Linked DNA regions of Homo sapiens: all the other regions are linked to region 3. Evidence: fine-mapped expression QTL. A gene starts in region 3. Each other region holds a variant in brackets. All regions are shown on one strand. Distances are between the middles of the regions.

What was found.
Region 1: its variant is fine-mapped to the expression of TKT in whole blood (INTERVAL, PIP 0.91).
Region 2: its variant is fine-mapped to the expression of TKT in whole blood (INTERVAL, PIP above 0.99).
Region 4: its variant is fine-mapped to the expression of TKT in whole blood (INTERVAL, PIP above 0.99).

What each region holds. Positions count from the first base shown.
Region 1 is chr3:53,228,083-53,236,186 of GRCh38, forward strand. TKT (transketolase) reads right to left here. Exons shown (of 14, transcript NM_001064.4): 5 at 6,901-7,092; 6 at 5,074-5,192; 7 at 3,275-3,468; 8 at 2,375-2,539; 9 at 1,198-1,354; 10 at 925-1,055; 11 at 194-277; 12 at 1-67. Among named protein-coding and RNA genes, the nearest start is that of TKT, 24 kb to the right of the region's middle. RefSeq lists an enhancer at 1-1,046. The variant C/T (reference allele first, on the strand shown) is at 4,727.
Region 2 is chr3:53,334,643-53,342,746 of GRCh38, forward strand. DCP1A (decapping mRNA 1A) reads right to left here. Exons shown (of 10, transcript NM_018403.7): 3 at 7,502-7,629. Among named protein-coding and RNA genes, the nearest start is that of SNORD38C, 5.6 kb to the left of the region's middle. The variant A/AACC (reference allele first, on the strand shown) is at 3,783.
Region 3 is chr3:53,252,488-53,260,591 of GRCh38, forward strand. TKT (transketolase) reads right to left here and starts at 3,535. Exons shown (of 14, transcript NM_001064.4): 1 at 3,349-3,535. The coding sequence starts at 3,455. RefSeq lists silencers at 3,132-3,821, 6,086-6,380 and an enhancer at 6,086-6,380.
Region 4 is chr3:53,214,062-53,222,165 of GRCh38, forward strand. No RefSeq gene overlaps it. Among named protein-coding and RNA genes, the nearest start is that of TKT, 38 kb to the right of the region's middle. RefSeq lists a silencer at 5,869-5,918. The variant G/A (reference allele first, on the strand shown) is at 4,261.

The sequences.
Region 1 (8,104 bases), 24 kb before region 3:
AGGCCTCGTGCAGGGTCACCCCAGCCCCGATAACGGTCACCTGGTCATCCTTGCTCTTCAGGACCACCTGGGGGTGACACAGAGGGTGAGTAAGGCTCAGGGCCCTGGGGCAGGGTGTGCCCTGACTGCTGGGAGTCACAGCAGGGAGGGTCCAGGCAGCTCTGTGGGCTCCTGGGGCATGCGAGGCACTGACCTTGGCTTGTCCGACCTGGAAGTCCTCATTGTTGTTATAGATGATGGCATTTTCTGGGCGGCTGGTCCGGATGAAGCAGATACCCTGAGACCGAAACAGATAAACTGAGGATACAGGATGTGGCACACCCAACCTCAGAGACGAGGTCTTTCTAGAGAGGCCATCCCTTCCCATGGGAGCGTTAGTTACTGCATCCTGGCTACTCCAGCAGGGAAAAGGGCCTTGCTTGCCCTCTGCCGCCCGCACCCCACTTGAACACTCTGAGAACTGCCCACCACCTTGCAGCCTCAGACCGAAGGCAACTTTCCACCAGGTAGACTGGCTGCAGGTGGGCTACTCCCACAGACTGCACCAGGCAGAGGGGCAGGAACCACGCGCACTGGGTCTGTGGCATGCAGCTCCGGGCCTGGACCACAGGGCTCAGCTCATCCTTGCCTGTCTTGGAGAACCCAACTCAGGAGGGTGGAGAGGTGTCAACCGCTGGACCGGCCAGGGCTGCCAGGATTCTCAGCAGAGACAGACTGGCAATCAGTTGACAATGTCTGCCACGTGGCAGTAAGTGGGGTGTGTATTTCGTTTTTTCTTGTCTAACTTCCACAAGCTACACGAACACCAGGGGCAAGGTCAGGAAACACCCCCTGGGGCAGCAAGTGACCAGCTCTGGCCTCCTCTTCTGTTTCCCTTGGGAAGTGATGGCTGCCAGCAGGAGAAAGAACAGCCATGCAACCTACCTTTGTATTGGCGGCTAGTTCCACTGCCTTCTCTGTAGCAACGCCATCACTTGGGTAAAAGACAGTTGATGTGGGGACTGACCGAAACATAGCCAGATCTTCTAGGGCCATCTGGGAGGGCCCGTCTTCCCCTGGGGTGTGGGGGAAAGGATATGCAGAAATAAGACCCCTACCCCCCCATCCATGGGCTGGAATCCTGGCCCATCCCCCTCCCATACCTCCTGGTGCAAAAGTCAAGGGAGCTCCAGGTGTAAACACCCTGGCTAAACTCACCGATGGAAACGCCGCAGTGGGAGCCGCAGAGGTTGATGTTGCTCTCGGAGATGGCGGCCATGCGAATCTGGTCAAAGGCCCGCGTGAAGAAGGCTGCAAAAGTGCTGCAGAAGGGCACCGTCCTGTTGCGGGTGGCACAGCCCACCGCGATGCTCACCTGGGGGCAGGTGGGACAGGGTCAGCCCAAAGGGGCAGGCAGAGGGTGGTCGGGGAGCCTAGGACCCCTTTTGTGGAGAAAGCCACAATTTGTATATAGATTGTCCATCCTTTCTGGGCTTCTGAATATGTCCCCCACCACCTTCTTCTGCAGAGACCGGTCCTCCCAACCCCTCCCTGGGGTCCGAGGGCAGCAGCCTCATGCCTGCTGAGGCTCCAGGCCCCAAATCACTCATCCAGAAGCAGCACTGAGTACAGTCATCAGTTCCAAACCAGCTGCCCTTCAAGGCTCCAAAATCTGCCAGCCAACACAAGGCCTCTTTCCCTAGTACCTGGGACCTCCCCAGCCCCACGCCCTGCAGAGCAGTCTCTGGAAACCACAGAGAGAATTTCAGGTCCAGTTGGAAGAACTCTGGAGATCTGAGTGCCCTCCAGAGAGAGGAAGCTCCCTGTCCCTAGGGGCCTGCAAGCCAGGCTGGGCTCCTGGACCACCAGGAGGGGATATTTTGAAAACATGGACAAAACATTGTTCCTTACTTCACAACCTCAGTTCCTGACAAGGGTCTGCTTCCCCAAATGGGTACATGTCAGGGGCCCAGAGTTCCCTCATCTCTGCATCCCTCAGGGTGGCAGGGCCCAGAGCCGTGTGCATTACAGGTGCTCTACAGACTCGGGCTGCTAAACCCATCACGGCCCCACCTACTGGCCAGGCCTGTCCTCCACCTGGAAGAGACCCCATTCACCACCAGGCCTGGCCTGTACGCAGCTCCTCCTGAGAGCACCTGCAGTCCCATTCGGCTCCCCCATGTGCACACCTGTCCAGGACATTTGCACCTGGGCAGAACCTCCCAAACTGTGGCTGTTCAAGGTCAGGGGTTAACGCTGGGTCCTGGCTTTTCTTATAGTCTCCCTGGGCTGGCCTACAGCAGGCACCTGGCTCTGCCAACATGGCTGCCCCGCACCCCTCAGACCACAGCCCTCAGCCTTGGGTGGACCTGTCCCTGCCGGCCCCAGCACCTACCATGTTCTGCTCAGCAATGTAGCACTCGATGAAGCGGTCCGGGTGCTCCTTTTTGAAGATCTCCGAGAAGGTGGAATTTTTGGTGTCCCCATCCAGGGCGATGATGCGGTCACTGGCATGGCCCAGCTTGGCCAGTGCCTGCCCGTAGGCCTTGCGGGTGGCTATCTGTGAGGAAGAGAGTGGGAAGGCTCTGGACCCCTCTGAGGGTGAGTGCACACCTGCAGCCTGGAGCCCTGCTTTCAGAGAAGGATTAAAACGGGGCCAAAAATGGAAGCCCTGGAGCACAAGGTCCTGCAGAGGCTTTTAACTGCTGAAAGGTTGCCAACGACTACGGTCAATGTCTTGGGAGCCCCTGGAGCCCCGGCCCCTTCTGGCTGTGAAAGGTATAAGCTACAGAAGACACCCACCAGCCCCAACTTCCCGCCTGCTGCACCAGGTCCATGAACCTATTCCACTTTGCATGGGAACACAGAAGGCTTGGGAGTCAAGGCCAGGCACAGGCTGCATGGATGGGTTCCCTTGGGACAGAAACCTGGAGTGGGACAGCTCTGCCTAGCCTTTCCCAGGTCAGGTGGGGGTCCTGAGCTCAGGCCAAGGGTCCCTCGTGGACCAGCGATGCAAGAACTTGGGAGTGAGTCCTTGGCTTTGATCTCAGTTCTGTCAGTAGCTTGCTAAGCTTGCTAAGTGGGCAATTCCCTTGCCCGGTCTGAGCCTCTGCAGGTCAACTCCAGAGATGTCTGTCATTCTGAGGGAAGTGACAGGAACAACACCTCAGGGATCACTCCTCGCCCTAAATGAATCGCTCTCCTCCCTTTCCCAGCCCTCCAGAGGGTGTATCTGGGCCACAGACTTGGGAAACCTGAGAACTATGGGTTCAGAGAAACAGGCCCCACTTTGTACCTTGTCCCCAACTTTGTAGCTGGGCAGGCTGGGCATGCGGATGTTGGCAATGTCCACTGAGGGTGCGTCCTCCTGTGGAGGGGTTGCCAGGATCTTCTTTTTGCTCTGGATCTGGCTGTAGATCTCCTGGATGATCTGCTCAGCCATGTTTTTGGGGAGGGGCTTCCCATGCCAAGACTCCTTATCTTCTACCCCTGCAGACCCAACACGGGAGGACAGAGGAATGGGTAAGACAGAAGCTCCCAGAGGGCCAGGAGGCTGCTCCAGGAGACTGGCCCTCTACCTGCCGAGGGCAAGGGAGGAATGGCATCATCCCAGACAGGCAGAGCCCAGCCAGGCACGGGGGCCAGGAAAGGAGGGTCGCAGTGAATAGGATGGACTCCTACGTGCCCACCACTCACTGTCTACTGCCTGGTCCTTTGGGAGCTCACAGCTGAGTGGGAAAGGAGGGGCCAGACGTGGGCAGGTGTGTGTTTCTGGGCCCACTGCCCCATCCCTTCACCAATGTGTCCATTCTCTTCCTCCCCACAACCCCGCCTGCAGGGTCACACACAGGTAGAGGTGTCTGCTGCAGAAATACTCAGTTTGTCGACTGGGTTGGAAGGGACCCTGGCCATCAGAAGGGGAACCCAAGGCCCAGAACAGGGCTTCCAGGGTCACCCAATGCATCTGTGAGCAGCAGAGGAGTCTATAAGCACCTAGGCATGCCCACCCCATGGCACCTTGTTGTGTGCGGCCAGGAAGGCTGAATATCCCTCTCCCTGGAGGTCACCTCAGTAGTCACTAGAGTCTGGCCAGAGCCAAGAACAGACTGAACTCCCAGGTAGCACCCAGCAGCCCGAAAGACTAGCAGGAGCCCCCAAGAAGCTGCAAGTGGTCCAGATCCTGCCCATTTTTAACACCAGAGGGCAGTGCCAGGCAGCAGCACCAAAGCCATGACAATATCCCAGAGCCCTTTCCTCGACATCCACCCCCTCCCAGACACCTCCCAGCACTGCCAAACCCCCACTCAGAACATCCTCATATACCTGAGTCTACATGGGCAGAACAAGCCACAACCCCTGAGAGCAGGCAGGTGGGCAGCCAGGGGCATTTGGCAGGGAAGCCGACCCAGGCCCTGGGATCAGCCCCCCTCGTGCCATAGACTTCCTCTGTCCCCGGGCAAGTCCCTGACCACTTGTAGTCTCATTTTCCCATCTTTAAAATGGGTGAGGCCATCCCAGGCCTAGGAATCTGAAGCCCACACCTGGGTGCCAGGGAGTGACTTACGCCTGCCTCATTCTCCGGCCTGGGGCAGAACCCAGGTTCCAAACCCCCCAAGGCTCTTGGCCCACACAGGCCTTGCTCAGCATCTGCCATTGCTTGAGGAGTACCCCACTCACCTCCTGGAGGGAACAGTTCTCTCCGGGCCCTGCCTGGCTCTGTGTCGGCCCTTCAGCTGGAGCAGGTGGC[C/T]GGAGCTGGCAGAGCACACACAGCTGCAGCTCTGAAAGGCACCAGCCAGGGTGGGGCACGGGGGCTGCCTCACTCCACGACCTTCCTCTCACCCACAGACCCTCCAAGTCCCTCCTCTCCTCCTGCCTGTACATGCCCCCACCGGCAGAGGCCAGACGGATCTGAGTTTAAATCCTGGCTCAGCCACAGGGGTCACTGAGTCACAGCATCTCCCGCTCCCCTTCCCTGGAGCCTGGTGAGCTCAGTGAGCAGCAAGGGCTGTTTCCCTGGATGTGCGGGTCAGAGCTACGTAGCCACAGTGTCTGGGCGAGGGGTGAAGGTGGGGAGGGCGGCTTGTGCATACTGACCCGTGATCCCTCGGCCCTTGAAGGTCTTGGCAATGATGGCTGTTGGCTGGTGCTTGGCCTGGCCAAAGGCCTTGCACAGCTCCTCCACGCTGTGTCCATCCACGATGATGGCATGCCAACTGGGGACAGGGGGCAGAGAGTAAGGGGCAATTCCCAGGGGCCACAACACCGAGGAGCCTTCCAGGGAAAGGTCTGCCTTGGCAGCTGGGGTCTGCCCAGGCTCCACCCCACAACTGCGGCCTCAGCTGGAGTAGTAGAAAGCTTGCAACATTCCTGTTTCCAGTTTGGGTTTTTTAAATCCTTTTCTTTTTCACATTATTTTACTTCCTTTTGTTTGCCTCTGAACAGGTTTTCCTCCTCCTCTTAAGTAATCCAGAGCTCAGTTCCTTTATTGTCTCTTTCATTCCTGATCTGCTCATTTCCTACTGAAAGCTGTTCTGGGGTCAGCGCACTGGGTTTGGAATCTGTCTGCTATTAGATTCTTGATGAATTTTTTGGCCCAATTCTTATTTGGGGAACACATTTGATCACTCCACAGATGCTGGATGTGGTGCTGGAAATGTTTTTGAAATGAACCATGGAGTCAAATATACAGGAAGGAGCTGGGGCAGAGCACCCTTTCTCTTGAAAAGCTATCCTTTTGGGGACTCTTTTTGACATAAGAATAAAAATAGCACTTCTCAAACTGAGTGCCATGCCAACCACTACCCATATTAGCCCACTGAAGCCTCACCACGCCATGCTTGGGTGCTGAGCTGGCCCCATTGTACAGACAAATCAACTGAGACACCGAAGGTGGAGTAAGTAACGTGACCCACGCCACAAAGCAAGTTAGCGGTGGAGCCAGGACTTCAGGAATCTGGCTTGAGTCACGAGGTTATGGACACAGGTCCTGGGGGTGCTGCTGGGGTTGTACTCTGAGTCCCCAGATAGATGTGGCCTTGGGGAGGCCTGTGGGGTGAGGACCCTGTGGCTCAGTTTCCTCGCCTGTCCAACAGAGATTATTTCCTCCCTTCCTCCTCTCCCTTTCTGAGGTCAGTCATCAGGGAACACAGGCCTGCGTATGCTGTGCTACTGCAAGGTAACCCCAAGCATCCTGTTACTTAGTGTAGTCACAGGCATGGGTTCATCCGCAAAACGCAGTCCTGGAGGCCTGACCTGAGTCTCAAAGCCTTGCACGGCACCTGCCCTGCTCCCTCCCCTCCACAGCCTCCTCAGCCAATGCTGGGCCCCTGTGCAGAGCAGCTTGTGTTTGGCAACACCGGTGGAGGCTTTGAGGTGGAGCCCCTCTGGCTGACACCCATGCAGATTGACCTCCCTGCTTTGTGCCCTTTGACCCTGAATTTGTAACCAATCAAGGCCGAAGGGGGGCATCTGGAAACCCTATCTCCCATTTCACCAGGAGCCTGTTCCTCCTCCCCAGGCTGGGCGGGGCTGGGCACAGGACGTGGCCACCAAACTGAGGTTCAAACCTCTCCGCAGCTATACATCCTTTAGCTTTACCGAGCAAGCCCCCATCCCTCAAGAACCCTCCTTCCTCAAGAACAAAGCGAGCTGACGTGAGATGGTGTGTGGAAGCTCCGAGAGCCACCATGCCACAACCACGAAAACAAGGAAACTCACTTAAAACTGGGCCTGGCCCACATATCCTGAGCCATTAAGTCCAAATGCCTAGAGTTTGAAATTGTGAGTCAAATGCTAAAGAAAGGGACCTTTAGATGGTGCTTAAGGTCCCAGCTTCAGCTCCTGCACCTGCACCTGCAAAGCTGTGATCACAGACCACTCTCCCGTGCTGTGACCACACTCAGGCCACAGCCTCGTACATACCCGAAGGCCTCGCACCGCTTCTGGTAGATGTCCATCTGGTGCTGCAGTGGGGCCGGGTCACTCTGGCCCAGGCGATTGATGTCTAGAATGGCCACAAGGTTGTCCAGCTTATAGATGCTGGCGAAGGCCATGGCCTCCCATACAGAGCCCTCTGACAGCTCCCCGTCTCCCAGCAAGCAATAGACTCGGTAGCTGTGGACAGAGAGTGAATCAGGCCAGTCCCTCTCACCTGGACCCAGCTGGCTCCCACCCCCCCACCCATCCAAGGAGCCTGCATTCTGGGTAAAGGAGCAGCCACGCATGGATATGCAGAACAGATGGCATTTACACTCGAGGGGCAACAGTGTCACCAGGTTCCTGCAGCCTACCACAAGCCACACCCCAAGAGAAAATGGCATGAAGGAAGACGTCAGGAGCTCAGGAAGAAGTACTGGTTGTTAAGAAACAGAGGTCTAGGACAACAGGGATCTGGCTAATAAGATCTAGAAAAATGGGGGTTGTTGGAATGAGAGGAAAGTGAGGAAGGGTGGGTGAATAGGCTTGAGCCACCTGCTGCAGGGGACAGACCCCGCTGTGAACCAGAGGTTGGAGGAGGCCTTGGGACTGGCTGGGTGGGCCAGTGGGAAAGGGGAACCTTGGGAACCAAGCTCTGCTTCTGCCCGGAGGAGGGAGGTGGGCCAAGGAGGCCTGAGGCACTCTAGGCAACACCCTGGAGCAAGAGGGCTCTGGGGAGGATAGAGCAGAGGGCACTTGAGGACCAGGCGCTTCCTGGGACAGGCTCTCCCCAAGCTTCCAAGACTAGCTCTTGACCCCAAGACTGAAGCTGCACCTGGCTCTTTCTCTACCACAGGGGCCCTCTCCTCCCCTCAACACAGGCAACTGTGATCTTTTCAAGACAGTGAGACGTTAAAAAGAACACTGAACTTGGGATAAATTACCCAGCAAACAGAACGTTCCCGGCCTGGGAGATGTGAGGGGATGGGGGTAGCAGAGGGACGGCAGCAACAGACAGGACTTGTCTGAAGGTCGCGCTGTCAGGAAGTTGCTGAGCCAGGATTCAAACGCAGGTCTGACTGTAGCCTAGACTGTCCGCTCCTTGCCGTGCAGGCATGCAAGTAGGGTGAGGAGTGGTAGGACTTGGGGACCTCCCCTTACCCTGCCCAGTGTCTAGCTGTGTAGCCCTAGGAAATGAGGCTGGTGCCTG
Region 2 (8,104 bases), 82 kb after region 3:
AATTTCATAGAGCTTGATGGTACCACAAGCCTGCATCTTAATATTTTCAATTAATCATGTTATACTGTGGAGCGTTTGGCTGTAAGAAAGAGAAAAACCAGTTGTCTGCTTTTACCCGTCACGCGCTGCAAATGCTCAATAGACACATGTGGCTACTGCACTGACAGCACTGCTGTGGGAGCTCCTACAGCAAGAATCTGGGGAGACAACTGCTGTTGTTTTTGTTGAAAAGTATCTTTATTTTGTTCTCTTCGATTACTGAATTATTGGTTTTTTTTTTTCTTCAGTCCTCTCAATATATTATTCTTTTGTCTTCTAAACTCAGTAGCTGCAACTATGGAATATGCTGTCAGTCTAACTGGTGTTCCTTTGTAAACACCCAATCTTGAGCAACCTTTGGTTGCTTCTGTCTCTGCCTTTGACATCTCATCAGAATGTGTCTGGGTGTGTGTGTGTGTGTGTGCACGCGCATGTGTATATATATATATTTTTTTTATTTTTATTTATTTATTTTTTGAGACAGAGTCTCACTCTGTCACCTAGGCTGGAGTGCAGTGGCATCATCCCGGCTCACTGCAACCTCCACCTCCCGGGTTCAAGCGATTTTCCTGCCTCAGCCTCCTGAGTAGCTGGAATTACAGGTGCCCGCCACCAGGCCCAGCTAATTTTTGTATTTTTAGTAGCGGTGGGGTTTCACCATGTTGGCCAGACTGGTCTCGAACTCCTGACCTCAAGTGATCCAGCCTGCCTAGGCCTCCCAAAGTGCTGGGATTACAGGCGTGAGCCATAGTGTCCGGCTAATATTTCTATGTTTTATGCTTGGAGCTCATTCTATTGTTTAAATCTGAGATTTATGTCTTTTATGGATTCTGGAAAATTCCCAGTCATCAACGCTTCAAATATTGCCTCTCTACAAATCTGCTTTATCATTCTGAAATTCTTATCCATCAAATGTTAGAGTTTATAATTCTAATCACTCTGTCATATTTCCATTTTGTCCTTTTTTTGGATACATTCTGGATTTCCTCAGATATATCTTCTAGCTCACCAATTCTCTTTTCAGCTATTACCAATTAACTGTTGAATCCAAGTAGAGAGTATCTTTCAATTAAAATTTTAATTTCTATTAGTTCTACTCAGCAATTTTTCAAATCTTCCTTTTTTTTAATAGCATTTAATTCTTTTTTATTCTTTTATTTTTTGAGACAGGGTCTCACTATCACCCAGGCTGGAGCGCAGTGGCGTGATCATGGCTCACTGCAGCCTCAACCTCGCGGGCTCAGGTGATTCTCTCACCTCAGCCTCCCAGGTCCACCCGGCTAATTTTTTGTATTTTTTATAGAGACAGGGTTTCGCCATGTTGCTCATGTTGGTCTTGAACTCCTGGGCTCAAGTGATCTGTTCGCCTTGGCCTCCCAAAGTGCTGAGATTACAAGTGTGAGCCACTGTGCCTGGCAGCATTTTATTCTTTTCTTTTTGAGATGGAGTTTAGCTCTTGTTGCCCAGGCTGGAGTGCAGTGGCATGATCTTGGCTCACTGCAACCTCTGCCTCCCGGGTTCAAACGATTCTTCTGACTCAGTCTCTCCCGAGTAGCTGGGATTACAGGTGTCTGCCACCACGCCAGGCTAATTTTTTCTATTTTTAGTAGAGATGGGGTTTCACCATGTTGGGCAGGCTGGTCTCGAACTCTTGACCTCAGGTGATCCACCTGCCTCGGCCTCCCAAAGTGTTGGGATTTCAGGCGTGAGCCACCGCACAGGGCCTTTATTCTTTTTTCACATTTGCTGTTCTTTTTACTTTATTTTATAATCTGTATCTGGTATTTACATCCATTAGAGTCTCTAGTTTCCATGAACTAAAGTCTTTGGGAAGGGTTGTATAATCCTGCTGTTTGTTATATGCTACCTTTCATTCACTGCAAAGTATTTCCTTGTATATTTAGTAATTTTAGACCATGAGACATGCCTGATATTCCTGGGCAACCTGGCTGGGCTAAGAATGTATCTTGCCAGAAGGGATCTACATTTGCTTCTGCCAGATGCCGTAGAGTAATCACCAGCTGATGATTAATTTTATGTTAATTTCTTGACCTGGGTAAGAAATGATACTAAATGAATGGTACAACTTGAACCTTAAATTTGTATGAGGGAAGTCCCATGGTTATTTTTTAGGAAGACATCTTCCTTCTAACCCAAAGCCCAGATTTATTTATTTATTTATTTATTTATTTATTTATTTATTTATTGAGATGGAGTCTTGCTCTGTCTCCCAGGCTGGAGTGCCAAGGGGCCATCTAGGCTCACTGCAACCTTCACTGCCTGGGTTCAAGCGATTCTCCTGCCTAGCCTCCCAAGTAGCTGGGACTACAGGCGTGCACCACCATGTCCGGCTAATTTTTTTGTATTTTTAGTAGAGATGGGGTTTCGCCGTGTTGGCCAGGCTGGTCTTGAACTCCTGACCGCAGGTGATCCACCCGCCTTGGCCTCCCAAAGTGCTGGGATACAGGCGTGAGCCACCATACCTGGCCAAGACTTCTCATTTTTAATATATATATTTTTCCAATGTATACCTCAGGCTTTCTAGTAATGGCCCCTACAACATTTGAAAATAATACTTGTAAAGAGACACAAAGAGCCTGCAGCTCATGCATGGTACTATCAGAAGGGATAGGAAGAAGCATATCACAGGCCTGTGTTATAAGAGAATCTGGATAGGCCAGGTGTGGATAACACTGATGTCCCTAGGATTCTTTCACTAATGAGATCATTTGTTGAGTCTAGAATGGAGACACAGTCTATGATATTTTGTATTTGTAAATGCCTAACAAAATACCTTACTTTCATGATGGCCTTTTAAGATAAATAGGTCAAATCAGTGGTTTAAATGATTTAGCCAAGGTTATAGTCAGTAAGGCAAAGCCCAGAATAGAATTCTTATCTGCAAACTAAATTCCATGCCAAAAGAATGTTACCATGGCAAAGCCACCCTCAGGGATATATTCTGCAGCTTTTGTATCTAGAAATCATTTGTAAGTTTCAAAAAGGAATGACTAAATAGGACGCATAAAAATCTAAGCCAAAGCTTCCCAAGTAGTTGTTTGATTCAGGTATGGCACAACAAAGAGCATGTTAGCACATGAGCTCATGCTGAGACTTCCACTGTCCAGTATGGCAGCTGCCAGCACATACAGCCATGTAAATTCTAATATATTAAATTAAATAAACTAAAAAGAAGTGTTCTTCATTTGCCCTAGCCACATTGCAGGCTACTATATGGGACAGTGCTGACACGGAACTATCATTTTCCCTAATTGCAAAGTTTTAGTGGATAGCACTACTCTAGAATATGGATTGATGAAGTAATTTTATTGTTACAGTAGAGTGGAAAGAACATTGGCCTTGAAGCCCGAAAGACCTACTCCCAAATTCTCCATCTGTCACTTATTACCTTTGCGAATCTCGAGCAGATTCCTAAACAGCTCTGAGCCTCTTGTTTTCTCAACCTGTAAGTTGAGGATCAGAAATAAGGTGCTAGAAATACCACTGCTACTCAATAACTCCAGAATTTATAACCTCCCCATAATTCATTGCAATCCCACTGGGGTCTTGTGACTGCCAAAAGGCCCTTGCACAGAATAAAAATACACTGTTCCCAAAAGATTCAAGAGGCTGGACATGGTGGCCCATGCTAGCACTTCGGGAGGCTGAGGCGGGAGAATTGCTTGAGCCCAGGAGTTCAAGACCAGCCTGGGCAACACAGTGAGACCTTGTCTTTTGAAAAC[A/AACC]ACCACCACCACCACCACCACTACCCCACAAAGATTTAAGAGAATCACCAAGCCTAAGCCCTTAGTCAGTGTAAGAATTTTCTCTTTAAGATTTTATCTTTTTCTTGAGGGGTGGGGTGGGTGTAGATGGGCATGTTTTATAAAGAAAAACTCTTGGCTGGGCGCGGTGGCTCACTCCTGTAATCCCAGCACTTTGGAAGGCCAAGGCAGGTGGATCACGAGGTCAGGAGATCGAGACCATCCTAGCTAACACGGTGAAACCCCGTCTCTACTAAAAATAGAAAAAATTAGCCGGGCGTGGTGGTGGGCGCCTGTAGTCCCAGCTACTCGGGAGGCTGAGGCAGGAGAATGGCGTGAACCTGGGAGGCAGAGCTTGCAGTGAGCCAAGATCATGCCACTGCACTCCAGCCTGGGTGACAGAGCAAGGCTCCGTCTCAAAAAAAAAAAAAAAGAAAAACTCTTAAAAATAAATAAAACAAATAACTTAGAACTGAAAAAAAGTTATGGTTCACTGTTCTAGTACATTAACTCCAAAAATTAATTTGAATGAAAGAAGTTGGATATGAAGGTGTCACTTGAGTTAAATGGGTCAGGTGTCTTGATGGTATTTCCCACAAGAGAATGGCAGAAGTGCAGCTATAGAATCAGGTATAATTACCTGTATGCATAATCAGATACTAACTTTTTATTTAAAGAACAAATCCCTAAACAACTTAATAGCTCGCTGACCTGACAAGACTATTTTCCACTTTTAAGACTATGTAGACAAAACACACACTCGAGAGGGCTTAACACTCACAAAATCATTTTCTGTTGTCTTATCACTTCTCCCCAATACAGCTATTCCTTTAAATACTTTCCCTAATGAAATGACCTGGTTAAGTGAGTTTTCTGTTCAACTAAGAAAACTTTTGTTTCAATCAGTTGAAAATTTTCTAAAGTAAAATGCATTAATGCACTTTCTCCCCAAGAATGTTCTAGTTAACATAATAAATACTCCTGATGATTTTAGGTCTCACTATAACAATTTAACCTATGATACTACAGTGGAGTTAAAGTTATAAAATATTGACATTTTAATGCCGACCCCAGGTTATTCTCTGGATATCTGCTTGATTTTCAGAAAATAAAACCTAGTATTAGCTTGTTTTCTTATAATTTGCCTTCATTTCTTCCACACACGAACTATAAAAATATTTCCAGACAACTGAAGCTCTAATTAGTTAGCTTCTGGTTACTCATGGTTCAATTACATTTGTGTTATGTCACACTTTCAATTTCACAGGACTTTTGCCTTGTGAAAAAAATATAATACAATTCATCTCAGGTTTATGCTAAATGGTAACTGGGTCCGGATAACTTTCCCTACTGACTACTTTAATAATCAAACCACTTAGGAGTGATGGCTAGATTAAGTTTCCAGGCAGTAAAGAACAGAATTAAGCCTATTTCACTTAAAAAAAAATTGGATCCATATTCATTTGCAGAATTTCTCCCACCCTCTTTTCATTTTTTGAGTCAGGGTCTCGCTTGTTGCCCAGGCTGGAGTGCAGTGGCGCAATCATGGCTCACTGCAGCCTGGACAGCCTCCTGGGTTCAAGCGACTTTCCCACCTCAGCCTCCTGGGTAGCTGGGACTACAAGTGTGTGACACCACACCTGGCTAATTTTTCTATTTTTTTGTGGAGTGGGGGTTTTGACATGTTGCCCAGGCTGGTCTCAAACTCCTGGGCTCAAGCAATCTGCTTGCCTCGGTCTCCCAAAATCGTGGGATTGCAGGTGTTGAGCCACTTTGCCCAGCCGAATTTTCCCTTTAATGGAATATTCAGTACAAAGAAAAGAGCAATCTGAAATAATTACATTGTTAACATTAGTTTAAATAAATCCATCTGAACTTACAGCTATTACAAAGCATGTCTAATATGTCCACAGAATTTAAAATCTGAGAGGTAATTACCTGGACAAATAGTTTACTGAGAAGTCAAAAGATAGAACCTATTTCACTTATACTTCAAAGTGTGCTACGGAAAAGAACTTGGGGGTTTCTAGCTTTAAAATAGGCCTTGTTACTTCTCATTCAGGGAATTAAGAGGTGTATAATTTTTAGTAACTTTTTCTATTTTATACTGAAGACATCCCCCAAGACCAATTACCCCCCCGCCAAGTGAAATTCAAACACATTAACTTTTACTTTTTAAGTTAGAAGCAACATTTCTCCAACTATATCCTTAGATGCCAATTAGAGCACAATCATTGTTACCATAACCAGTTTTCATATCCCTATAGTCAATGTCCAACAAACTGTCCTCAAACACCCATACCTTCAATATCCATACTAATACACTGGAATCAAGTATATTTTTTAGTACTGTAGTTTCTTGGAAGGGCCACTCTAGCTTTGCTGACTACATCCAATCGTTATTAGAGATTGTAAAAATGCCTGAAAGAACCCTGGACTAAAAAGCAGAAGAATAGTCATAATCCTAACTCTCCAACAGGGTAATAGTTATGCATCTCTGAGTCTCAGTTGACTTAACTGCCTGCTTACACCACATAGGTAACTGTATCGTTAACATTAAAGCACCACAGCTCTTGGCTCAGTGCTGGTAACCAGTAGACACTCAATTAAATAAACAGATAGAAAAACCTTACTTAGAAACATATTCAGACAAAATAAAGTAGAAAAAGTAATAAATATCTTAAAAAAAAAAACCCATCACCACTATTCTGGGCAAAAATAATATTTTCTGGCCGGGCGTGGTGGCTCATGCCTATAATCCCAGCATTTTGGGAGGCCGAGGCAGGCAGATCACAAGGTCAGGAGATCAAGACCATCCTGGCTAACACGGTGAAACCCCTTCTCTACCAAAAATACAAAAAAATTAGCCAGGCGTGGTGGCGGGTGCCTGTAGTCCCAGCTACTTGGGAGGCCGAGCCAGGAGAAGGGCATGAATCCGGGAGGCAGAGCTTGCATGAGCCTAGATCACACCACTGCACTCCAGCCTGGGCAACAGAGCAAGACTCCGTCTCAAAAAAAAGAAAATAATAATAGTAATAATAATACTTTCTTTGTGGAAAGAATTATCTGTATCTGTTCCCATCCTGTGTGTCCCAAACTAAGTTCTGTTGCTTAGGGACATGGGCAGCTGATAGTCCACAGCTGCAAAAAAACAAAGGCATAAACCTTATTTTAATAAACCGACAACAGAAATGTAGTGCTATTAAATGAAATAGTAAACTAAATTATATACAAAAGAATGTTTCCAGTTTCAGAGCCCAGTTTATTTATTTATTTTTTTGAGACACAGTCTCATTCTGTTGCCCAGGCTGGAGTACAGTGGCGCGATCTCAGCTCACTGCAACCTCCACCTCCCAGGTTCAAGTGATTACAGGCGCCTGCCACCAAGCCCGGCTAATTTTTTTCTGTATTTTTAGTAGATACGGGGTTTCACCATGTTGGCCTGGCTGGTCTCGAACTCCTGACCTCAAGTGATCTGCCCTCCTCGGCCTCCCAAAGTGCTGGGATTACAGGCATGAGCCACCACCTCTGGCCTCAGAGCCCAGTTTAAAAGGTTTGATCTTTCCAACAGACTCATTTATAATCATTAAGTAGAGACCATATTTTGTTTTGTAATTTGAAACTTCCTAAATAATGGATTGATAGAAACTAAAGTCACTCAATTTTAAATGTAATAACTATAATAAAACAGATATACTCACAGCTTGCATTTCTATACAGAAGAAATGGTTCATGGAGCTGAAATTCCAAATCTTTATTCACTGGTTCAACTAGATTGTGCATATTTAGTCGATTCACAATGGTAAAACCATGGTAAGGGGAAGCTGACCTTAGATTTAATAGAAGAAAAAAAAATATGTAGTTACCATTTAATCTGTAGAAATGTTATCTACTATGTACTTTATTTTCATTTCAAAAAAGAATGCATTAGAACATTATACAATATTATCAGCACTTACATCTGTAAACAAAAAATTTAAGTCAGATCATACTCCTCCTCTGACGAGAAGTCTCCAAAGACAGTCTCTCAGAGTAAAGGCCAAAGTCCTTACTGAGGCCACCAAGGCCCCACCTGATATACTCCCCACTCTGACTTCATTTCCTATGGCTCTTCTCCAGCTCCTACTCTCCAGCCACACCGGGCTCCTTGCCACTCTCTCTGCGTGTGTGCTTCTACCTAAAAACCTCTTCCTGGATTACTGCCCCAGAAGCTGCACAGCTATCTCATCTCCTCCAAGCCTTTGTTCAGATGTCACCTTTTTCATGAGGCCTACTTGAACTATCCTTTTTAATGCTCCCAAGCT
Region 3 (8,104 bases):
ACACACACACAGTCACTGTATTTTACATATCCTTTTTTTCTTTTGCAAATGGATATTTTTTGAGTTCAGTGAGCTTCCCTCTCCAAGACATTACAATGTAAACATGGTGTAACTCTCGGACACCACAGTATGTTTCCGGAGGGGTAACGGCGGTGAGGAAATCAGACTTTGCCTAACAAAGAACTAGGAGACACACTTGACATTCCACTCTTTTGGAGCACCCTACATTTGTAAATCTTATTTCTCTCCAAGTGCCTTTCAGACTGACTAATATCCACCGCGGCTGTACCTGGCCTTCCCTTTCACCTTTTTCACCATTCTCCAGCCTGGCACAGACTGCTTGCCCAAGAGGCATTCTTTTTTTTTTTTGAGAAGAAGTTTCAATTTTGTTGCCCAGGCCAGAGTGCAATGGTGCAATCTCAGCTCACCGCAACTTCTGCCTCCCGGGTTCAAGTGATTCTCCTGCCTCAGCCTCCTGAGTAGCTGGGATTACAGGCGCCCGCCACCACGTCCAGCTAATTTTTTGTATTTTTAGTAGGGACAGGGTTTCACCATGTTGGCCAAGCTGGTCTCGATCTCCTGACCTTCAGGTGATCCACTCGCCTACACCTCCCAAAGTGCTGGGATTAAAGGGATGAGTCACTGCGCCTGGCCGAAACATTATTTATTTTTGGAGACAGGGTCTTGCTAATGTTACCCAGGCTGGTCTTGAACTCCTGGCCTCAAGCGAACCTTCTGCCTTGGCCTCCCAAAGTGCTGGCATACATGTAACACCATGCCCAACTATTTTTCTTTTCTTGGCCTTTCTTTCTTTCTCTCTCTCTCTCTTTCTTTCTTTTGAGACACAGTCTCACTCTGTCACCCATGCTGCAGTGTGTGGCATGTTCAAGGCTCACTACAGCCTCAACTTCCTGGGCTCAAGTGATCCTCTGCCTCAGCCTCCCATGTAGCTGGGACTACAGGTACACATCACCACACCTAGCCAATTAAAAAAAATGTTTGGCCGGGGGCAGTGGTTCACACTCGTAATCCCAGCACTTCGGGAGGCCGAGGTGGGTGGATCACCTGAGGTCAAGAGACCAGCCTGGCCAAGATGGTGAAACCCCATCTCTACTAAAAATACAAAAATTAGCCGGTGCGGTGGCGGATGCCTGTAGTCCCAGCTACTCAGGAGGCTAGGGCAGGAGAATCAGTTGAACCTGGGAGGCAGAGGTTGCAGTGAGCCAAGATTGTGCTGCTGCACTCTAGCCTGGGCGATAGAGCAAGACTCCATCTCAAAAAAAAAATTTTTTTTTTAAGCTATGGGGTCTCACTGTGTTGCCCAGGTTGGTCTGGAACTCCTGGGCTCAAGCAATCCTCCCACCTTGGCCTCCCAAAGTGCTGTGATTACAGGCATGAACCACCATGCCCTGCCAAGAAGCATTCCTGACAGCATGAGCCCCAACCAGACAGTACGGAATGGCCACCAATTCCCAGCCTGGGCAAGTAACTTAACACACTAGCCTCAGTGTTCCCGTCTATAAAATGTGAATACAACACAATCTATCTCACAGGGTTATTCTCAGGATGCAACAAACGATGATGCTGTGTCATACCAGATACCTACTTGGCAGCTCAGGAACCCTGTAAACATCTGCATGTTTTATCTAGCCCTGAAAGATGCTCAGATGTGCAATACTACTTAGTTGGGTAATTGCTGCCTCTCTCCAGCTAGACCTCAGACCCCCTGAAACGGCCAAAGGTAGCAGGTCCAACAGTACCAAATAAGCAATACAAGGCCTGCAGAGCTACCGTGTGCCAGGCTGGTGAAAGGGGAGCTGAGAGTAAGCCAGGTCCCTGCCCAGGCAGGGGATACCCCACATAAGTGGTAAGACTGACACAAACCCAGGAGAGCTAACAGGTCCAAAGTGTGCAAGGCAGTGGGTGGGGGAAGGGCTTTGAAAGACATCTAATCCCTTCTGAGAACAGGGTGTCTTAGAGGCACAAAGGGTGAATGCGTATCCACCCAGAAAGGTGAACAGATTTACTTCTTAATAATATATCCTGAATGAAATTGGCCAGAAGCCAGAATCTTGTCTGTCTGAAACAGAGCTTGTTTGGGAAGGTCCCGAGAAATCATCCATCACGCAGCCCTCACAACCCTGTCATGAGCCCGGAGCACTGCTGGCACTGTGGCCTCAAAGCAGCCTCCAAGTAGAGCACTGGAGTCCTTGAAACCACCCAGCGTGGTTAAGTGCCATTACTGTCCCCGCTTTACAGAGCGGGAAGCAGGCTCTGAAGTAATTCACTGACTGACCCCCTCACCCACCCCACTGGACACCTCCAGCTGCATGCACGGTGGCCCTCATTAATTATCCCTGTCTCCGCTACAGAGGAGGCTCCTTGGGTGTCCACCTTCTGGGCCAAAAGGGCTGGCCAGGGAAGGATCTTGGGGCCTAGGCACGCCAGCTCCTGCCTGGGAGATACAGCACCTGGTGGCTGGCCCTGCCCCAGGACGTCACTCCCGGCGCTAGGGCCCTGGAACTCCGTCCTTCCGGCGCTCAGCCTTCTCAGTCTCCTTGCCCTCCGCCTCCTCCCGCCCCAGGTCAAATCTTAGACCTCCTTTTCACAATGGATCCCAGGGTTCTGCACCCACGTGCCACCGCCCTCCTCCCCTCTTCCCCCAATCAGCCCCGCCGCTGCCTGGCGTCTCAGCAGCCCCCTGCTCCAAACTCGGACCCAACCCAGGGGTGGCAGGAGACAGGGGTAGGGGAGCGTAGTCTGAGGTGGGGAGAAGGCCGGGCCCCCGAGTCTCCTGCAAGAGGAATTAAAAACAGGGTCTCTAGAGTCGGACTGCTGGGGCTCAAATCAGATCTCCCTGTGTGTAACTTTGGGTAGCTGACTAACTCGGAGCCTCCGTTTCCCCATCTGGAAGGGGGAACACTCCCGGCGGCGCCCACACAGCCAGGTGGTGGAGAGGGTTAAGAGGGCCGCGTTCTGTAGAACAGCAGTAATGGTGGCCTTCCCGGCATCACCCTAGAGGGTACTTGGCGAGTCGCGAGCCCATCCCCCGCGCCACCATGCAGCTGCGCGGCCGGCGATCCGCGTGGGGAAGAGCCGGCCTGAGGCGCACGGAGGACCAGAGGCCCACGCGGCCGAGCCCGGGCGTAGGGCGAGTGTGCGGCGCAGCGGAAGCCGCCTGCAGCCCGGGGCCCTGCGAGGCGCGCGTCTCCGCCCTCCGACGGCGCCCGGGCCACCTTCCTCGTCTAGGCATCTCGCAGCGCGACCCAGAGCCCGCGGCGACTCTGGCCGCCGCAGACGCCCCCCGCCCCGCCCGAGCCGCGTCCCCGGCCGGCGCCGCGCACTCACCCAGAGCCCGCCGCAGTGGTGGCCTGGATGGAGCTGATACGTAGGCGGTTGGCCGTGTCCTTCAAGGCCTGCAGCTTCTGCTGGTCAGGCTTGTGGTAGCTCTCCATGGTGCGGCAGGCGGGGACCGGGCGCACACGCGGACACACAGAGATAGCGGCTGCTCCCGCGGCGACAGGCGGCTGCCGAGGCCGGGCGCGGGGCGGGGGCGCGTTAAGTCGCCGGGCGGGGCGGGGCGGGGATGGGAGAGGCGGGGCAGGGGGAGGAGGCGGGGCTCGGATCACCCCAGGCCTTCAGCCCCGCCCCGCCTGGGGCCGCCTCCTGCCCGCTCCCCTCCCCTAGGCGCTGGGCCGCTGCGGACTGCGAGGTTAGCAGTTAACCACACACACCAATAATAATAACATAACGAACAACTCAGGATTCGAGTCTGGGCTCCTGACTCGAAAGCCTCTCAGTCTCCCTCCTCCACACAGTCCTCCGTGGACTTGTCACGGCGAATCCCATTTTAGAGATGGACAAACTGAGGCTTGGCAAGGGCAATCAAGGTCACAAGGCTGGTGGGTGCCAGGCTTGGCCCCAGCCGACCAACCCCAGGCCCAAGAGACTGCAGGACTTAATTTTGAGACTGAGTTTCGCTGTTGTTGCCCAGGCTGGAGTGCAATGGCATGATCTTGGCTCACCACAACCTCCGCCTCCTGAGTTCAAGCAATTCTCCTGCCTCAGCCTCCCTAGTAGCTGGGATTACAAGCATGCGCCACCACACCTAGCTAATTTTGTATTTTTAGTAGAGACGGGGTTTCTCCATGTTGGTCAGGCTGATCTTGAACTCCCGACCTCAGGTGATCCGCCTCGGCCTCCCAAAGTGCTGGGGTTACAGGGGTGAGCCACCGCACCAGGCCCTATTTCTTTTTTCTAATAATTAAAAAACTTGTTTTTTCTTTGAGACGGGGTCACCCATGGTCACCCAGGCTGGAATGCAGTGGAGTGATTACAGCTGCCTGAAGCCTCAGCCTCCTGGGCTCAAGTGATCCTTCTGCCTCAGCCTCAAAAGTAGCTGGGACCATAGGTACACACTACCACGCCCGGCTAATTTTTGTATGTTTTGTAGAGATGGGGTTTTGCCACTTTACCCAGGCAGGTCTTGAACTCCTAGGCTCAAGCCATCTGCCCTCCTCTGCCTCCCAAAGTGCCGGATTATAGGTATGAGCCACCATGCCCAGCCACTCAGGGCTTTAGAGCCCTGCACAGGGGATGGGGATTATTGAAAATGAGAATAGGATAGTGGTAGCCATGACAATGCCAGGTGATGATAACTGAGAAATTACTAGGGGAAGATCCTTTACAAATTATTAGGGCCTAGAAACACTACTGACTTTTAGGGAGATTATTGGGTTTGCTTCCAGGTCTGTAGGGACAGGGGCACCCACCACTACTGTTATCAGACCCCATGGTTCCCAGAGGTATGAAGCTCCCCAGAGTGGGATTAGGGAGGGGACTTTCATCACAGACACTGTTTCATTCAATCTGCCCACCACACTTGGCCAGTGAGGTACATACTGCCTACAATGCCTATTTTACAGAGGAAGAAGCTCCATTTGACAGAGGAAAGATAAAGGCAAGACCCTCAAACGGATGGCTGGGCAGGGAGCTAAAACCCTGAGAGATCCAAGAGGCACCAGTGGCCGCCCTGTGTCCTCTGTGTCCTCCCTGCATTGCCCATACTCAGAGAGCTCTGGCTCATGAGGCGATTGACTGAATTTGAGTGAGTCCCCCAGCTCGCCTCCAGGTGCTCCTCTGCTGGCCTGACCCCCAGATGCCCAATCAGACCCTAAGTATGGCATCCCATAGCACCTGGCTCCTGCTGGCCCAGCCCGCAGAGGCTGGCCCTATGGTGTCTGGCTGGTGAGGGCTATGGGCTAGGATTGGAGGGGGGCCCCACAGTGTGCCACCCTCAGATGCCTGGCAGGTGCCACCTCTGCCCTCAAGCTGCTCACTGTCTGGAAAAAGGGCAAACCCTTGAAACCCTTTGAAAGCTCTGTGCCTTCCAACTCTGTGGCCCTTAGAGCAGTGGCTCCCTAAGGGAGTGGACTCCATTTCCCCATCTGCCTAATGGGACTCATCCTTATCACTCTGGTCTCTGACAATGGCACAGAACTCACCATGGCTCTGGGGACCTAGGAGTAATGGAAAGAAAATTGTCCCCTCCCCACCACCTGGAGCTCCAGGGACCTCAGGGAGGCTCTCTCTCCTCCTGGTGTTCCACATGAATGGGGCCTGTGATACTATGATATGCATATACAGGCCCCTGGCTTAGAACTGCCCCCAACCCTTGTTATACCACTGGGGTGCTTTAGACCTCAGGAGCAGACCCCAGAAACAGAGTCTCTCAGGCCTTCTCCTACCTTCCTTTCACCTGCTCCTTTCTCTCCCCATGGCAGGATCTTCTCCTGCCGGTCTGTCTTGGAGCTGGCCATAAGTAAGTTCTCTCACCTACCTCGTGTAATTGTAGGTCATTAGACCCCCATGAGAAGGGGTTCTGTCCCATACCCATGAGGAGGGAAGACCAGAGTGGGTGCAGAGTGATAAGGATGAGTCCCGTTAGGCAGATGGGGAAATTGAGGCCACTCCCTTAGGGAGCCACTGTCCTAAGGGCCACAGAGTTGGATGGCACAGAGTTTTCAAAAGGTTTCAAGAGTCTGCCCTTTTACCAGACAGTGAGCTTCACAGAGAGGTCAAGAAGAGTCAGGACACACAGGTCTTGCGGGGTTTCCCCACTCAGTCAGTTAGTATTAGATCATATACTTTTGGTCTAATCACATTTCCACAAGGTTGTCAATCATGTCTGTCCAATGAAATGTCCATGAAAGGCTCAAGAGGACAGGGTTCAGGAGCTTCTGGACAGCGGAACACGTGGAGGCTCACAGGAAGGTGAACAAGAACTCATCCACGTGCTGGGAGGGTGGAACATTCCAGCTCCATGGAGACAATGGCTCCTTCACTAGGGACCTTTCCAGGCCTCCGCCTATGTATCTCTTTGCCTAACTGTTTCTTTGTCTCCTTTAAAATATCCTTTGTAACTAACCGATAAATGTGCTTTCCTGAGTTTTGAGAGCTGCGCTAGCAAATTAATTGAACCCAAAGAGGGAGTGGTGGGAACCCCAACTTGAAGCTGGTCAGTCCCAATCTTGCGACTCATGGGAAGGAGGAGGTGCTCTTGGGGGACTGAATCCTTAACCTGTGGTTTCTGAGGCTATCTCCAGGTAATTAGCATCAGAATGGAATAGAGTTGGAGGACACCCAGCTGGTGTTGCTGCAGAATTGGTTGCTTGCTTGGTGCATGGGGAGAAACCCCCACACATTTGATCACAGGAGTCTTTTGTGTTAATTGTTGTGGTGTGAGAACAGAGGAAAAACAGAGTTTGAGTGTTTTCCCTTTCACAGGGCCCAAGGGTTCAGCCTTATTTCAAGAGCTCTTGGTCTTCCTGAAGGTCAGCTTCAGAACCAGAATCCTAGGCTAGCTGGAGGTGTTGCTAGCACCCAGTTTGTCCAGGGTGGTTCCCTTGTCCCCAGGTCCCAGGGTCTTTATTCGAACCCTCACGCCTCAGAAGTCACATGGCACTTGGAAGAAAGCCCTGGGATCCTGTCTGGCTTCCAGCTAACATCTGGCTCCCTGCTGCCCTCACACCCCATCCTCTCTCAGCCTCCTGTTCACCCTCCCCATGGCTGCCAGAGAAGTGTTCCTCCCCAGCTTAACTCCCATGTTGTTCTTCCTCCACCCTTTGGATATAATTCAGGTCCCCCAGCCCTACCCATCTCAGCCACACTGACCTCGCATTCCTTAAAAAATACCAAGCCCACTCCCTCCTAGAGGTTTTGCACAGGCTGCTCCCTGAGCCAGCAGAGCCCTTCCTGAGGCTCCTCACATGGCCTGGATCTAGAGCCATGCTGCCCATCACACTGCCTGTCTTGGTCTCTGCAGGGCTCTCTGCCTATCTGCATGATCTTTGGTCAGCTCCCGGAGAGCCGGAATACAATCTCTTGTCCCTGGCTCTATCCGCAGGGACTACAACTGGGTCTCATATACAATAGGGGCTCAATGAATGCCTGCAGAATGAAAGCATGAATGTCAAGTGATGTGCCTGAGGACACAGAGTCAGCAAGTGCCAGGGCTGCACCCAAGCCAAGAGGGCATCAGGGAGGCCTCAGGGGAGGGAATCTGGCCATTCAGACTGGTGTCCTTCATTCCGGCCTTTCCAGAAACCGAGACACAAAGGTGCTCTGTTGGAGGGTAGGAAGTGGCAGAAATGTCCTACTGCCGGCATCAGGTGCCAGCAGAGGCCACAGTGACCTGAGAGCAGAGCCACATTCTGGAATCTGAGCTGTCCCCCAGGACCCGTGCAGCACTAGGGAGAAGGTCACCCTTAGAGGAGCCAGAACAGTGTGAGTCCCCACGTAAGAGTCCCCCACAGCCACTCCCCAGGGATCTCCAGTATCACTAAAAGGGACCTGAGGGGGGTTGGGGTCCTGAGGGGTGCCATGCCACCCAGTATTGTTCCTGGGCAATGGCTTTGATCACCAAGGCAGTGCTGATGGATTGTACTGGCTGCCTAGAGTGGAATGTGAAGCAGAGAGTTCTGAATTGCCCTTCAGCCTGAAATGCCAGGACCGGTCTAGCCATACTGGGCAGGGGCACCTTGCATAAGAGACTGGCAGTGTCAGGAAGTCATGTCCCACCTCTTCATGTCCCCTGTACTTTGGG
Region 4 (8,104 bases), 38 kb before region 3:
GATACCAGCCTGGGCAACACAGTGAGATCTTGTCTCTAAAAATAAAAAGTAAAGGCCGGGCTCAGTGGCTCACGCCTGTAATCCCAGCACTTTGGGAGGCTGAGGTGGGCGGATCACAAGGTCAGGAGATCGAGACCATCCTGGCTAACACGGTGAAACCCCATCTCTACTAAAAATACAAAAAAATTAGCCGGGTGTGGTGGCGGGCGCCTGTAGTCCCAGCTACTCAGGAGTTTGAGGCAGGAGAATGGTGTGAACCCAGGAGGCAGAGCTTGCAGTGAGCTGAGATCGTGCCACTGCACTCCAGCCTGGGCAACAGAGCGAGACTCCATCTCAAAAAAAAAAAAAAAGAAAAAGAAAAAGTAAAGGGGCTGGGTGCGGTGGCTCATGCCTATAATCCCAGCACTTTGGGAGGCTGAGGTGGGTAGATCACCTGAGGTTGGGAGTTCGAGACCAGCCTGGGCAACATGGAGAAATTCCATCTCTACTAAAAATACAAAAATTAGCTGGCCATGGTGGTGCATGCCTGTAATCCCAGCTACTTGGGAGGCTGAGGCAGGGGAATCGCTTGAACCTGGGAGGGCGGAGGTTGCGGTGAGCTGAGATCACTCCATTGCACTCCAGCCTGGGCAACAAGAGCAAAACTCCATCTCAAAAAAAAAAAAAAAAAAAAAAATAGCCAGGCATGGTGGCATTAGGCTGTAGTCCCAGCTATTCAGGAGGCTGAGGTGGGAGGATCGCTTGAACCCAGAAGGCGGAGGTTGCAGTGAGCCAGTATCACACCACTGCACTCCTGCCCAGTGACAGAGCCAGATCCTGTCTCAAAAATAAATAAATAAATAAAAATAAATGAAAAATAAATGAAATAAATAAAAAATACTAGGCATGGTGGCATGTGCCTGTAGTCCCAGCTACTGAGGAGGCTGAGGCAGGGGGATCACTTGAGCCCCAGCGTTCAAGGCTGCAACGAGCCATGATTGTGCCACTGCACTCCAGCCTGAGCAAGAGTGAGACCCCATCACTTTTTTAAAGAAATAAAATATACATACAAATAGTGTGAAGCTAAAGGAACAGAAAATTATGCACCATGCTAACACTAATCTAAAAAAACTGAAGTGGCTATACTAATATCAGATAAAGTAGATTTCAGGACAGAGAATGTTACCAGGGATAAAGAGGGTCATTTCAAAATAATATGTCAATTCATCAAGAGAACATAACAAATAACAATTCTAAAAACCCAATAATCCTAATAATCTAGCAATTCAGCTGCTCTGCCTACGGAGTAGCCATTCTTTATTCCTGTACTTTCTTTTTTTTTTTTTTTTTTTGAGACAGAGTCTTGCTCTGTTGTCCAGGCTGGAGTGCAATGGCACGATCTCAGCTCACTGTAACCTCCGCCTCCCGGGTTCAAGCGATTTTCCTGCCTCAGCCTCCTGAGTAGCTGGGATTATGAGTGCAAGCCACCACGCCTGGCTAATTTTTGTATTTTTAGTAGAGATGAGGTTTCACCATGTTGGTCAGGCTGGTCTTGAACTCCTGACCCTCGTGATCTGCCTGCCTCAGCCTGCCAAAGTGCTGGCATTACAGGCGTGAGCCACCGCGCCCAGCCTCCTTTACTTGCTTAATAAACTTGCTTTCACTTAAAAAAAAAAAATCTAGCAATCCTAAAACCTAATAACAGCTTCAAAATACTTGAAGCTAAAATGAATAGAACTACAAGAAGAAATAGACAAATTCACAATTAACTTTGAAAATTTCAGCACCCCTCTCTCAATAATTAATAAAACAGGTAGACAGAAATCAATAAGGATAGAGAAGATTTGAACAACACTATCACTGAGTTGACTCAATAACAGCAGAATCCACGTTCTTTTCAAGTACACATACTCTGGGTCACAAAACAATTCTCAATACATTTAAATGAATTCAAGACACACAAAGTATGTTTTCTAACCACAATGGAATTGAATTAGTAGTCAGTATAGAAAGATCTCTGGAAAGTCCCCAAATATTTGAAAACTAAACAATATACTTCTAAATAATCCTTGGATCAAAGAGGAAATCAAATAGGAGATTAGAAAGCATTTTGAAAAGAATGAAAATACGACATTTCAGAATTTGTGGGATGCTCAGTACAGATTAGATGAAATGAACAAATTCCTTGAAAGATACAAACTTCAAAAACTCACTCAAGAAACATAATCTAAGCTGGGCGCAGTGGCTCACACCTGTAATCCCAGCACTTTGGGAGGCTGAGTCAGGTGGATCACCTGAGGTCAGAAGTTTGAGACCAGCCTGGCCAACATGAGGAAACCCTGTCTCTACTAAAAATAAAAAAATTAGCCAGGCATGGTGGTGCGCACCTATAATCCCATCACTTTGGAAGACCAAGGAGGGCAGATTACTTGAAGTCAGGAGTTCGAGACCAGCCTGGCCAACGTAGTGAAACCCCGTCTCTACTAAAAATAAATTAGCCGGGCATGGTGGCACGCACCTATTGTCCCAGCTACTCAGGAGGCTGAGGGAGGAGAATTGATTGAACCTGGGAGGCAGAGGCTGCAGTGAGCCAAGATTGTGCCACCGCACTCCAGCTGGGCAACAGAGCAAGACTCTGTCTCAAAAAAAAAAAAAAAAAAAAAAAAAAAAGCCTGAGACTGGGTAATTTATAAAGGAAAGAGGTTCAATTGACTTGCAGTTCTGCATGGCTATGGGAGCCTCATGAAACTTACAATCATGGCAGAAGGGGAAGGGGAAGCAGGCACCTTCTTCACAAGGCAGCAGGAGAGAGTGAGTGTGAGAACAAGGAAGTGCCACACTTTAAAACCATCGGCTCTCTGAGAACTCACTCACTATCATGAGAACAGCATGGGGGAAACTGCCCCTATGATCCAATTACCTCCCACCTGGTGCTTCCTCTGATACGTGGGGATTACAACTTGAAATGAGATTTGGCTACACAGAGCCAAACCGTATCAGCCCATGTCTGTGAAAGGAATTGGATTTGAAGTTAAAAGCCTTCCCACAAAGGAAACTCCAGACCTAGATGGCTTCACTGGAGAATTCTATTGAACATTTAAGGGAGGAATAATACCAAATCTATGAATAAGTGATGCAAAATATTATTTTTATAGTAAAACTGGATGTTATAGAGCAGAGTGCAAAATCTGCAGGAATTTTAAGTTTACCCTTAAAATCCTCGGAGGATTCCTTGGAGATATCTTGAGCCTGGGACAGGCAGCTTTGGGCTCTTACCAGATGCCTGGGGACTCTGTTTCTTCTCTCTCTTGGGGACACCAGGACAAAAGAGGGCAGGACATACTTGGGATCTCTCAGTGGTTGGTGAGGAAGCTGGGACTGGCCCTCGGGGTGGCTAACCAGGCAGCCCTGGCTCAAGTCTCTGCCTGTCCATCACCCCTATCCCAAATGTGTGTTTAGTACCTTGAGATCTGGCTTGAGTATTATTTGAGCTATAAAGTGTGCAATCTTCTGTAAGGTAGGGACTGTGACAATATCCTGCCTTTTTTTTTTGAGACAGGATCTCACTCTGTTGCCCAGGCTGGAGTGCAGTGGCTCAATCATGGCTCATTGCAGCCTTGACCTCCCAACCTCAAGCTCTCCTCCTGAGTAGCTGGGACCACAGGTGTGCGTCACCACATCCAGCTAATTTTTGTATTTTTTGTAGAAACAGGTCACCCAGGCTGATCTTGAACTCCCAGGCTCAAGCGATCCTCCCACCTTAGCCTCCCAAAGTATTGGTATTGCAGACATGAGCCACAGTGCCCTGCCAACAATATCTTGTCTTATCAGTGAGGAAGCAGAGGCCCTTCTGATGGGTGGGAGATTTGCCTGAGGCCACCCGGGGTTGGAATCTGATTCCCTGTGACTGACCAGGTTCTAGTCCCCTGGCATTCAAGGCTCCGTCTCCCACACTCATTTCATTGTCCCCTACACCTGCCTTCTAGTCAAACTAGATGTTTGCTGTTACCCAAATAGGACTCCTCCTGGAATGGGTACCCCAACTCCAACCCCAGCCCCCCACAGCTCACTCTCAGACCCCCAGTCCACACCTGAAGCCTCGGCTTGGATGCCCTCTCCTCCCAGGAGCCTTTCCTGACCCCCCTTCCCACCATACCATCCAGCCCTCTCTTTCCCATCTTGGGTCACCATTCTTCCTATTGCCAAACCAACTTTTGTTTTCCTCAGTCCTAAGCATTCGGGCACCAACTCAGACTGGGGGGTGGTGGGTAGGCAGAAGAG[G/A]AAGTGAGAGAGACCATTGAGGAACTAAGAGGAGCTGGGCCAGAGCTGGGGTCTGGGAAGTGAGGAGGAGAAGATTTGAGATGAGGCTGGAAAGGGTCAGAAAAGGCTTCATCCACTGGCAGCCATGTGTGAGTGGGGATGTGTGAGCAGAAGAGCCATTGTGTCAGGTTCTAGAAGTTTCTGTGGGGCTGCTGTGTAGAGAATGAGCAGGGAGAGCAGGGAGATCAAGAGGCAACTGGGAGGCCATTGACTGCTCCCTCTCAGGAGAGATGATGGAGGTCTGGACCAGGATGAGGGCAGAAGGTGGCACGTTTGGGATCATTTAGGAAGTAAAACCACCAAAGGCTGGTTAACAGATATGAAAGTACAGCTAGGTCAGAGGAATAAGTCCTAGTGTTACATAGCACCGTAGGCTGACCATAATTAACAATTTATTGTTATTGAATTATATTTTAAAATAGCGAGAAGAATGGATTTTTTTTTTTTTTTTGAGATGAAGTCTCGCTCTGTTGCCCAGGCTGGAGTGCAGTGGCACGATCTTGGCTCACTGCAATCTCCACCTCCCTGGTTCAAGTGATTCTCTTGCCTCAGCCTCCTGAGTAGCTGGGATTACAGGTGCGAGCCACCATGCCTGGCTAATTTTTTTTATATTTTTAGTAGAGACAGGGTTTCACCATGTTGGTCAGGCTGGTCTTGAACTCCTGACCTCATGATCCGCCCGCCTCGGCCTCCCAAAGTGCTGGGATTACAGGCGTGAGCCATTGTACCCAGCCAAAGAGTGGATTTTGAATCTTTCTGACACAAAGAAATGATAAGTGTTTGAAGTGATGGATATGTTAATTACCTTGATCACTAAACATTGTATACATGTATTAAAATATCACACTGTAACCCATAAATATATACAGTTATTATGTGTCAATAAAAAATAAAAGCAGGCGGGGCGCGGTGGCTCACGCTTGTAATCCCGGCACTTTGGGAGGCCGAGGCGGGCGGATCACGAGGTCAGGAGATCGAGACCACGGTGAAACCCCGTCTCTACTAAAAATTCAAAAAAAAAATTAGCCAGGCGTGGTGGTGGGCGCCTGTAGTCCCAGCTATTCGGAGAGGCTGAGGCAGGAGAATGGCGTGAACCCGGGAGGCGGAGCTTGCAGTGAGCCGAGATCGCGCCACTGCACTCCAGCCTGGGTGACAGAGCGAGACTCCGTCTCAAAAATAAATAAAAGCAAACTGGGTGCGGTGGCGCACGTTTGTAGTCTCAGCTACTGGAAAGGCTGAGGTGGGAGGATTGCTTGAGCCCAGGAGTTCGAGTTTAGCCTTTTAAAAAGTAAAATTTAACTAGCCTGGGCAATATGGTGAAACTCCATCTGTACAAAAAACACAAAAATTAGCTAGGTTTGATGGCATGTACCTGTAGTTCCAGCTACTCAGGAGGCTGAGGTGGGAGAATCACCAGAGCCCAGGAGGTCGAGGCTGCAGTGAGATCATGCCACTGCACTCCAGCCCAGGCAACAGAGTGAGACACTATCTCAAAAAATAAAATTAAATAAAATTTAGAAAAAATAAAATAAGGAAAAAGTAAAATCAATGAACTCCGGTGTCATTGGAAGAGAGCCCTGCCTAGTCTCACAGGGAGTGAGCCTGACATCTTTGTCCCAGCATGTACCTTGCAGTTTCAGTTGTGTGTGACAACGACCAGGAGGCACTGCTGCAGCCAGGATCTCTGGTCCATGAGTCCATCCCTCCCCAGCCCTACAGGTGGCGCTGCAGGCTCCTCTTCCATGCAGGCCACTACCGCCTGCAAAGCAATGCAACGTGGGCCTGTGAGGATGAATGGACAGGCAATTGCTGAGATCTATGTTGCAGAGATCAGCTCAAATGAAATTCCTGGTGGGGTGGAAATGTCAAAGCCCTTTACCCCCCACCCCTGGGGAACCTGGGCTCAAGCATGTGCAGAGGTCTCTGCTTGTCTCCAATTAAACTCTTAAAGGGATAAAGCGCCTTATCCAGTTCGGGGATTTCTCAGTCTTTTAGACATACAGGAGTGGAGATGGAAACTTCCAGAATTTAAAGTGTGGTGTATGGATGGGAAGTTTTTGTTAAAACTCTGGTCAGTAGGCCGGACGCAGCAGCTCACACCTGTAATCCGAGCACTTTGGGAGGCCAAGACTGGTGGATTGCTTGAGCTCACGAGTTCGAGACCAGCCTGAGCAACATGGGGAGACCCTGTGTATACAAAGAATACAAAAATTAGCTGGGTGTGGTGGTGCACACCTGTAGACCGAGCTTACTCGGGGTGACCCTGTGTATACAAAGAATACAAAAATTAGCTGGGTGTGGTGGTGCACACCTGTAGACCCAGCTTACTCAGGGCTGAGGTGGGAGGTTCACTTGAGCCCTGGAGCCGAGGCTGCAGTGAGCCAAGATCACACCACAGCACTCCAGCCTGAGCCACAAAGTGAGACCCTGTCTCAAACAAACAAACAAAACAAAAACTCTCTGGTTGGTTGTCCCTTCCTCCTGTGAAAACATGTGAAAAACATACGTATAGAATGTTCAGATCTGAAATCACTAAAAACATAAAAACATACCATGTACAACTTGCTGTACTAATTAAGACTACCTGAGGTACTTTGATGAAGACTTGAGGCAGAAACCCACATTTGCCAGTGTTGGAAACTTTGTTGTTGTTGGGAGGTGAGACCCAGATCAAGGAGGGGGATTGGGGTTTTCTCCTGCCCTGGACCTGGACGTGTGTGGAGGGGTGCTCAGTGGCCTGCTGATGGGTTTCTGCTTTTTTTTTTTTTTTTTTTTTTTGAGACAGAGTCTCGCTCTGTCGCCCAGGCTGGAGTGCAGTGATGCCATCTTGGTTCACTGCAACCTCCACCTCCCAGGTTCAAGTGATTCTTGTGCCTCAGCCTCCTGAGTAGCTGGGATTACAGGTGCACACCACCATGCCTGGCTAATTTTTATATGTTTAGTAGAGACGTGGTTTCACCATGTTGGTCAGGCTGGTCTCAAACTCCTGACCTCAGGTGATCCACCTGCCTCGGCCTCCTAAAGTGTTGGGATTACGGGTGTGAGCTACTACACCCGGCCTCTGCTCCCTTTTTAAAGAACCCTCCTTCTTTCTAGCTTTTATTTATTTTTTGAGACAGGATCTTGCTCTGTTGCCCTGGCTGGAGTGCAGAGGTGTGCTCACAGCTCCCTGCAACCTCCATTTCCCAGGCTCAAGTGATCCTCCTACCTCAGCCTCCTGAGTAGCTGAGACCACAGGTGCATGCTGCTGCCTAGCTAATTTTCGTATTTTGTGTAGAGATGGGGTTTCTCCATGATGTCAGGCTGGTCTTGAACTCCTGGGCAAAAGTGATCCTCCTGCCTTGGCCTCCAAAGTGCTGGGATTACAGACATGAGCCACTGCACCCAGCCCCCTCTTCTCATTTAAATCTCAAGATAGTTTCATTTTTCTCTTATACTTCAAGTTCCGACATCCAGAATAGTGTGCCCCTGGGAGAGAAGTGAACTGTGAACTTGGCAGATTTGAGGGCTGCTATGGACTGAGCTGTGGCCCCCAACCAAACCCAAATTCATAATTTGAAGCTCTAACCCCTAATGTGACTGTATTTGGAGACAGGTTCTGTAAAAAGTTAACTAAGGTTAAACGAGGTCCTAAGGGTGAAGCCCTGATCTGATGGGATTAGTGTCCTTATACTATAAGACGCACCAGAGAGGGCTCGATCTTCCTGCCCCCAGCACACACAGAGGCAAGGCCACCTGCAAGCCCAGAAGAGAGCCTTGCTGGAAACTGAAGGGGCAACATCTTGATTTTGGACTTCCCAGCCTC